2 separate regions of the Homo sapiens genome follow, and region 2 is linked to region 1. The links come from fine-mapping of genetic effects on gene expression. A gene starts in region 1. The other region holds a variant in brackets. All regions are shown on one strand. Distances are from middle to middle.

Region 1 (4,524 bases):
TTTTTTTTTTTTTAAAGGTTCATTATTGCTTTCTACCTGCTTAAGACAAAGCAGGGGTGTGAGTTCAAGGTGGGTTGGTTTTTTTTGTTTTTTTTGTTTTTTTTTTTTAACCATTAAAAGGGAATTGCTTTGTGGTTATAATATGTTTCTTGCAACTTAGTAAGCCTTAACATGAAAGTGTCTGCTGAACGACCTGAATGGTAAATATATATATATAAATGAGTTAATGCATATGAAGCATTTAGCACTGTTCCTGGCAAATAAGAGGCCTTAAATAAAAGACAGCAACTCTAAGACTCAGGTAAGATCACCTCCTTCAAATAACCCCAGAAACACCTTCCTTACAGATACCCTCTTTTAATTTCAGCCCATGGCTTATGCTACTACATTTACAGATTGTGAGTTCTTAGGGACCAGAAACCTGGTGAGATGGGAAGGGTGGTAAAAGACAAGGTCAGAAAAGGCAGGGCCAGATCGTATAAGGCTTTAGTCCAAGAAAAAAGACTGGATTTTATTCTGCATGGAATGGAAAGCCATTGAAAGGTTCTAAGCAAGAAAGTAAAGTGTTCTGATTTATATTTTTAAAAGATTAAGCTGGTTTCTGTGTAGAAAGCTGTTTTGCTTGGTTTGGGTTGGGGTGGAGATGGGGGCAGGAAGGTAAAAGTGGAAGCACAGATAACCAGGGAGTAGATTACTGCAGTGTTACAAGTTAGAGATGAGGGTGTCTTGTATTAAGACGGTGATAACAAAAAGAAGTGGAGAGATTCCAAATACATTTTTGCCAATGTGAAACTAAGAAATCTATTATATAATAAAGTATACACATGCTTAGGATTATAAAAATTAAACTTACTTTAGATACTTGGCATATTCTGGGTCTTTCCAGTAAAGCAAGTATTTAAGATAATTAACAAAAGCTTTGTCTTTGAAGTAACCTCTTTGGGCAAGAACTGAAAAGCATTAAAAAAAAAAATCTGTAGGTCAAACCAATCCTTAAACTGTGATTTGTTACCCCTAATATAAAGGATCTATTTACATAACACCCCCACCACCAACACACATTGGATTCAAAACACAAGTCCCAGTACGCAATTATATCTATATACCAGCATAAGTGTAATGTCATTCAACTGAGAATGTGTAAAAGTAGATACTATTTTGAACTGCAACTCTTCTGTCAGAAATCATTAATAGCTACTCAATTTAATGAGGTGCTTAACAACTTACAATTAAGGTAATTTGGGTTGGCTAAACATTGCACAAATTCCAACTCCAACTGAAACCGAAGTCGATTTCCAGCATCATCTAGGAGACAAGACAGCAAAAATCATGGAAAACAAAGGTCACTGTATATAATACTGATTTGTAGTAAGGAAAGAGCAATAAAGAAACCTGACTAATGTTGAGATGGTCTTCCTAAACTAGGAGTGGGAGGAGATAAACCTTCCTTCGAAATCTAAGAAAAGCGGAGCCCTGATTAAAAGGAGTAAGTTAGAAGTTTCTCTAAAGTTAAAGAGAAATCATCAAAGAAAACAGCAACACAAACGGAGAATTCCTACCACTCGTGGGCCACTATGTAGGAATTTTAACAGTGATCACTAAGGTAGGCTGTAATAACTGTGGCTTCCCCTATTTTAATAATGCGTTGTAACAACTGTTAACAGTGATTAAGTTTCGCAAACGCTAGGGGCTGAATCAGTAAAGAAAAACTTAGGATGCAAGAGACTGCGGAGAGCCTAAAAGATCATGCAGCGCATGCATATAAGAAGCACCAGGGTCAGGAGATCGAGACCATCCTGGCTAACACAGTGAAACCCCGTCTCTACTAAAAATACAAAAAAAATTAGCCGGGAGCGGTGGCGGGCTCCTGTAGTCCCAGCTACTTGAGAGGCTGAGGCAGGAGAATGGCGTGAACCCAGGAGGCGGAGCTTGCAGTGAGCCGAGATCGCGCCACTGCACCCCAGCCTGGGCGACAGAGCCAGACGCTGTCTCAAAAAAAAAAAAAAAAAGAAGCACCAGTAGCAGAATGATACACAAGTCTGGCGACGATATTTCAAACTTAGGCAAGCTCATGTGAGAAGCAGAAAACCAATCAAGGAGGACACGGTTTAACACACAAGTCCTCTCCCTTAGTCTCACCCACGCCAGGGAGCTGGTGGGGTGGTGTCTGAATAGCAAAGATGTGCGAACAAACCAAATCAGGAAAACTGCAAAGAGTACCTTAGTCTTTCTAGACGCTACAAGAGCCTTCTCTCCTCTCTGTCCAAATATTAACCCTGCCAAGAGTAAGGCCTGGAAGGAGGCCACGGGGAAGAGGTCTGGGTCAAGGAGAGTTCCATCTGCGAAGACTCCAAGATCAGAGAGCTACTCACCTGTCTCCATAGCGACAGCAGCGGCCATAACAAACGAAGACACCAAAACGCCACCAGCCTGACAGAGCAAAAGCCCAGAGACGCGGGCGAAGTTCCGGAAACCACGGCTCCCTCTTCCGGTCCCGGGGCACTGTGGGATATGGGGCGGGGCGGCTCCGCCCATCCCCGACCAGCCCTGGGATGGCTCCACCCGCGCTGGCTCCAAAATAGCGAGGGGGCGGGGCCCGGGCCGTGGGAGCGCCTGAGGGGCAGGAGTCCAGTGTTTTAGCCTTCGAAGGACCATGGTGCTTCCACGTCATCGTGTTGTGGCGCTCCCGGCTATGGCAGTACCGTAGTTTTCCTCTCTTCTGCCTGCGGTGACCATTGGGCTGTAGGGTGCCCCGAGGCCTCCCTGGCCCCCTCACGCCGGCAGAATGGCCTCAGCCCGAGGGGCCAAGCAGTCTTCGCCCCGGGTGGGGACCACCCGCTACACAGAGACGTCCACGGTCCGCGTGGAGACCTCGTCCCACCGCGTGGAGACGTCGTCCCGGCGGGTGGAGACCTCCCAGCGCCGCAGCGAGGGGCCCTCCCTCTCCCCCTCGGGGAAGCGGCTCCCTCGCATCCTCGAGGCGTCCTCCCGGCACGTGGAATCCTCCTCGCAGCGCACGGAAACGACCTCCCGCCACGTCAGAGCCTCGTCCCTGAGGGTGGAGACGTCTCTGCACTGCGCGGAGAGCCCGACCCCGCGGGCCAAGCCGGCCGCCCGCCAGAACGAAAAAACGGCCCGATGAGATGCTGCTTCCCAAAGGCCACCAAGGGGCCAGGGCCCTCAGCCAGGACAGAAAGGCCTCCAGTTGCCAGCCAGCCAGCCAGCTGCCAGGTGGACCAATCATTTTCGGTTTCATGGAAACAAACCATAAATCAATGTAAGAAACAGCCAAGCCGCAGTTTCTGAACACAGCCAACGTTTACTGACCGTCCTGCGTCTTGGACCAGCCTACTTTTGACCCAGTGAACTATTTTCACTTGAAGCCAGCACAGAAGGTTTTCAGGCCCAGGATGCTGTCTAAATCGGGTTGATGGACAAAGAGAGGCTGTTTGAGCCTCTGAGCCAGGTGAGTTTGGGATCCACAGCCCTCAGAAAACCTTCACCCCTTAGGAACAGAGACCAAACTGAAATAATGACCTGTGGAATGATTCCATGCCTGCTAAAAACTCGAGGGACAAGGAACAGACTCATAAATTATTAATTGGCCTTTGTTTATGTTTCAAAGTAAATGGTCGTTTTCTTTATGCTAAGTCTTTGTACCTGGCACCCCCATCCATACACTTTTTTAAGGTAGGTTAGATGTGGTTAAAAATGACAGTAAACCCACCAGCAAGCAAAAATAATCTTAGAAAGTGAGAGGAGGTCACTGAAACCTGGCCTGAGGTTTGAAGAAGATGGAGAAGAGTTATATTTATTGAGAACCGGCTCTGTGCCAGGCACTAGATGTTCCTCCACTTACGATGGGGTTACCTCCCGTTGAAACTATTGTAAGTTGAAAATATGGTAATTTGAAAATGCACTTAATACCCCTAACCTACTAAACATCATGGCTTAGCCTAGCCTACCTTAAACATGCTCAGAACACCTAAAGTTGAGCAAAATCATCTAACAGAAAGCCTGTTTTATAATAAAATGTTGAATATCTCATGTAATTTATTGCATACTGTACTAAAAGTGAAAAAGAATGGTTGTAAGAGTACTTAAAGTACTATTTCTACTGAATGTCACTTTTGTACCATTGTAAAGTCGAAAAATCATAAGTCAAACCATCTTAAGTTGGGAACTGTCTGTATTCTGGGAACTTGGGCTATAGCAGTAAAAAAGGCAAAGTCCCAGCTCTAGTGGAGCTTACACTCTGGTGAAAAGGCAGACAAGCAATGATGAAACAAGACAATTTTCTATTGTGATTAGCACTATGAAGGAAATACATGGGTAATGTGATAGAGAATGGAAGTAAGTGGCTTCTTTTGATAAAATGGTCAGGGAAGGCCTTGCTGATTAGTTAACATGTAATCTGAGATATGTGTGAATGAACAGTGATCTGGAACAGGTGCATTCTAGGCAGAAGAACAGCAAATACAAAGGGTGGATGGGAACCAGCTTTGAATGTTCAAGGAACAGAAA
Region 2 (4,000 bases), 41 kb before region 1:
GTTTGACTGAAACGTTTAATAAACTACATTTTATGTATTTATTCTATTTTTAAAAATAATCTACATTTTAAATAACCAACTTTAAATGTAGGAAAGAGAAGAAAGGGTTCACTTCCAAGTCTATGTAAAAGGAGCTCTTTAATTCTCAAAGATCTGAAAAATACCAGCACAAACCTGGCTGCTTCATGCTCAACAGCACCTGTCAGGTGACTTTCCTCTTGAGGATCTTCTTGCTGGAGAGGCTCTTTTGTGGCATCTCTGGGGCTAGTTTTCACCTTTAGCCATGCAGCACTGAAATAAATGGAAAAGCATACCTTTGTCATCATTCACTCCGTATCCAATGACTCATCCAAGTAGGTGCCAGCTCAGAGATGACAACAGCATTAAATTAATGGTGATCTGTAGCACGGGGCCCTACAGTAGAAGCTGAATGTGAAGAAAAGTGAGATCCTCCCGCACTCAGGCACAGTGTCAAAGGGCAGAAATTCTCCTTTGCTTCAAAGAAGCCATCACCATTTTAAATGAGAAACAGTGATCAATTACAGAATATTGGGTGAGTGTCAACAAAACTCTGTCACAATACATAGATTTGGATCACTAATTACATTCCATATTATAAGGCAACTCCGTATCTTTATAAGGCCTAACAGCACTGTTGAGCCTAGAAGCCTCACCCACCCTCCTCTACCCACCACACATGCACTCTAAAAGACAGTCCATTGTATATTTGGTTTGTAATACAAACTTCAACCACTGAGCTTATCAACTGAATGTAAATCTCCATATTAATACTTGTATACAAAAATACAGAAAACAGAATAGAGTAATAAAAACAAAAAAAGCACATTATGAAGTCAGAAGACCTGATTTTAGGTCTGGCTGTTACATGAATAAGACATTAAATTCTCTAAACATTGTTTCCTTAACTTGAAAATGAGAGTGGATGGATGAGCACGGCCATTCCTTCACACTCATTCGGAATCTTAGGGGGCTTCTCTTCCACCAAGCTGCTCACCCTGACTTCTGATGGCTCCAAAGACAGAACCCTGTAGTCACCTATCTTCTCCCTTCTCCCCTGACATGACTGCTTTTTACTTCTTTCCTTTTTCTGTTCCACCTCCTGGTCCTTTCCATTGTGTTTTCAAAAACTACTGCCTCACGGCAAACGAGCTCCCCTTTATCTTCAACCGATTCCCCTAAAGATTATTTCCACCTAACTGGACCCTGCTCCTCTTCTCTCTAGCCCTGTGAAATGGCAGCTTCTCATTCTAATGTGCTATGAGTGAGGATGACAAGACAGTAACATCAACATTATCCTAATTGCTCCCTGCAGCTAAGACAGTGTTGGTGAGATCTATATAGTTTTATAGTTCATAATTATCTTGACTTAGAGTTAGAATTATTTTAAAATATTTATTTACTCAGCAAAGATTTACTGAATGCCTACTATGTGACTAGCACTGGACATTCAAATATAAAAAAGAATATAAAAAAGACACAGTCCCTGGCCTCAAGTTACTAGAATCTATTGGCAGAAGAGACAAGTGAAGGGAAGCCCCCCATCTTCCATTCAATCACACATGTCCCGGTGTTGGGGTGGCCCATGGAAGGGTGTTCCAACCACAGTCAGGCAGAAGAAGGAACCAACAAGCTTCCAGACAAAGACTTCTCATGTATGACTCACCCAAAAAAGGATTTCTGCTTAATGGAAAAAATTAAGGCTACTACTTAATTTGCTCCTTATAAGCTACAGGTCACCTTTGATATATGGAGGAAAAAGAGCATCACATACACAAACGGTCCCTTGAGTTTTCACATACCATTTAGGAGACGCTGGTGGGGATGTGGGGTTTGGGGGTATCCATGGTGCCTTGCGGTCTTTCACAGGCTGCCGGTTCATTTTTAATCTGGATGAAACTGTTGTCTGCTGCACTCTGCTTTTACTGTGAGGTTGGCTTTGTCTACCTCTTTCAGCTTTGCGGAGTCCCTGTGAGAGATAAGTAAGAATTATAAGGCCACACAAATACCAAAGAAACTATGGTTTAACCTCTGACTCACTGAAGCTCCAAGTTCTCCATGTTATTCATGCATCCATTCGGTAAAACCTGAGTAGAAAGCACTGTGGCAGAAATTTGGGGGAGGGTGTAAATTTCATTGAAACAACCATGGTAGGGGCGGGGGGTGGAGGGTGTAGAATTTAAATCCCTGGCTCTGCCTGACACCTTTAAACATATAAACAATATATAAAATATATTTTTATTTATTCACAATTTGTTTCCTAATTAAACAAAAAAAATTTCATACCATATTGTTAAATTATTTTTCTTTTTTCTTTTCTTTCT[C/CTT]TTTTTTTTTTTTTTTTTTTTAAGAGACAGGGTCTTGCTCTGTTGCCTAGGCTGGAGTGCAGAGGTATGATCATAGCTCACTGCAGCCTCAAACTCCTGGGCTCAAGCGATTCTCCTGCCTTAGCCTCCTGAATAGCTGGGATCACAAGTGTTAGATACCATGCCTGGCTAATTTTTTATTTTTTGTAGAGCCAGGGTCTCACTGTGTTGTCCAGGCTGGTCTTGAACTCCTGGGCTCAAGTAATGAGTAAAACATTTTTCATAAAAATACTTAACCTCTCTGGGCCTTAGGTCTAAATAGAATGAATCTAGCGATTTAAAAAATGTTATCGAGAATGCGGGCTGTCTGTGGAGAGGCGCACCCATCTGAATTCCTACAGGTTCAATCTTGACATCTCAATGATTCATGGTCGCCCCCTGCCATAGAAGTTTGGGAAGAAACAGACTTGATCCTAATCCATTATCTGTCAATAACTTGGGATAACTGCTAACTCTCCTTTTCTGGAGGCCACCTGAAAATAAACAGATTTGCTAAAGAAGCCTTTGGGCAAGACCACCAAATGTCACTAATACAATAAGGGTATTCGACCAGGAGGTGGTCTTTTGGCCAGTTTTCCACTGATAGGGCCATAAGTAAGTTTTAAACAGAAGCTTAAAATATAATGTAGTTTCAAATCAAGTTGTACCCTGCTGGCTCCCAAAGCCATATTAGAAAGCACTCACCCTAGGATGCCCTTTTAATATGCAGTAATTATTATTGATCGATATTTATCTTTAGCAGGAACTAATTTTTTTTTTTCTTTAAGACAGGGTCTTACTCTGTTGCCCAGGCTGGAGTACAGTGGATCGATCACAGCTCACTGCAGCTTCAAACTCCTGGGATCAAGTGATCTTCCTGCCTCAGGCTCCCAAATAGCTGGGACTACAAGCATGAGTTACCACATCTGGCTAATTTTGTTTTTAGTAGAGATGGGGTCTCACTATGTTGCCCAGGCTGGTCTTAAACTCCTGGCCTCAAGCAATCCTCTCGCTTCCCAAATTGCTGGGATTATAGGCCTGAGACACCACACCCGGCAGGAACCAAATCTTAATCCCCTCAAGTCTCACACTTCCAAATCAGAAGCAGAAAAAAAACTGAATTTTAAAATCTCCTGCCCAATTAGGATATTGGTATCATATTAGTTAGGATCTTACCAAACCAGGAATAGAAAGAATTCTCTATTCTAGTAACAATATTAAAAATTGTTATTTTTTTGTTAAAATATATAAACAACTTAAATAGCCAGACTCAAGGACTGCAGCATCCAATTGCCTGAGAACTGGCTCCACCATATACCAGTTTATGTGACCTTGACAATGTCAGATTAACACAAATGGGCCAAAAGAGAGGAATGATTTCATACTTGCTGTCTTGCTGGCGCCAGAGTATCTTTCTTCCTAAACGGCACATTCTCAGTCACAGGCTTCTTTTTCCCTGCTTTTGTTTTTGCCACGGCTAACACCTCGTCTTTGAAGCTTGCACTTTGGTCTAGAATAAATGGTCCTTCTTCCAGAACTATATCCGCATCTAATACATCAAGCTCACTCTGCAACCTCTGGGTCTCCGGAAGCTCCGTATCGGGCTGATACTTATCTACATGGAAATTTTTGAAAAACAA

Direction of the effects. Positions count from the first base shown, and alleles are read on the strand shown. Sizes are in standard deviations (SD) of each study's normalised expression.
For the expression in CD4 T cells of the gene that starts at base 2,477 in region 1, C is the high allele of the variant in region 2 and CTT is the other (large effect, 0.81 SD a copy in Kasela 2017).

Evidence for each region. PIP is the estimated chance that this variant, and not a neighbour inherited with it, causes the effect.
Region 2: its variant is the best candidate, but not a certain one, in a credible set for the expression of MED31 in CD4 T cells (Kasela 2017, PIP 0.83).

The regions. Positions count from the first base shown.
Region 1 is chr17:6,649,129-6,653,652 of GRCh38, forward strand. It overlaps MED31 (mediator complex subunit 31), which reads right to left and starts at 2,477. Exons shown (of 4, transcript NM_016060.3): 1 at 2,373-2,477; 2 at 1,228-1,305; 3 at 854-950. The coding sequence starts at 2,400. C17orf100 (chromosome 17 open reading frame 100) reads left to right here and starts at 2,634. Exons shown (of 1, transcript NM_001105520.2): 1 at 2,634-4,348. The coding sequence starts at 2,786. The coding sequence ends at 3,142. RefSeq lists enhancers at 1,892-1,951, 2,042-2,121, 2,192-2,321 and silencers at 2,572-2,651, 2,952-3,001.
Region 2 is chr17:6,608,174-6,612,173 of GRCh38, forward strand. It overlaps KIAA0753, which reads right to left. Exons shown (of 19, transcript NM_014804.3): 8 at 3,746-3,975; 9 at 1,821-1,987; 10 at 175-291. Among named protein-coding and RNA genes, the nearest start is that of KIAA0753, 31 kb to the right of the region's middle. The variant C/CTT (reference allele first, on the strand shown) is at 2,343.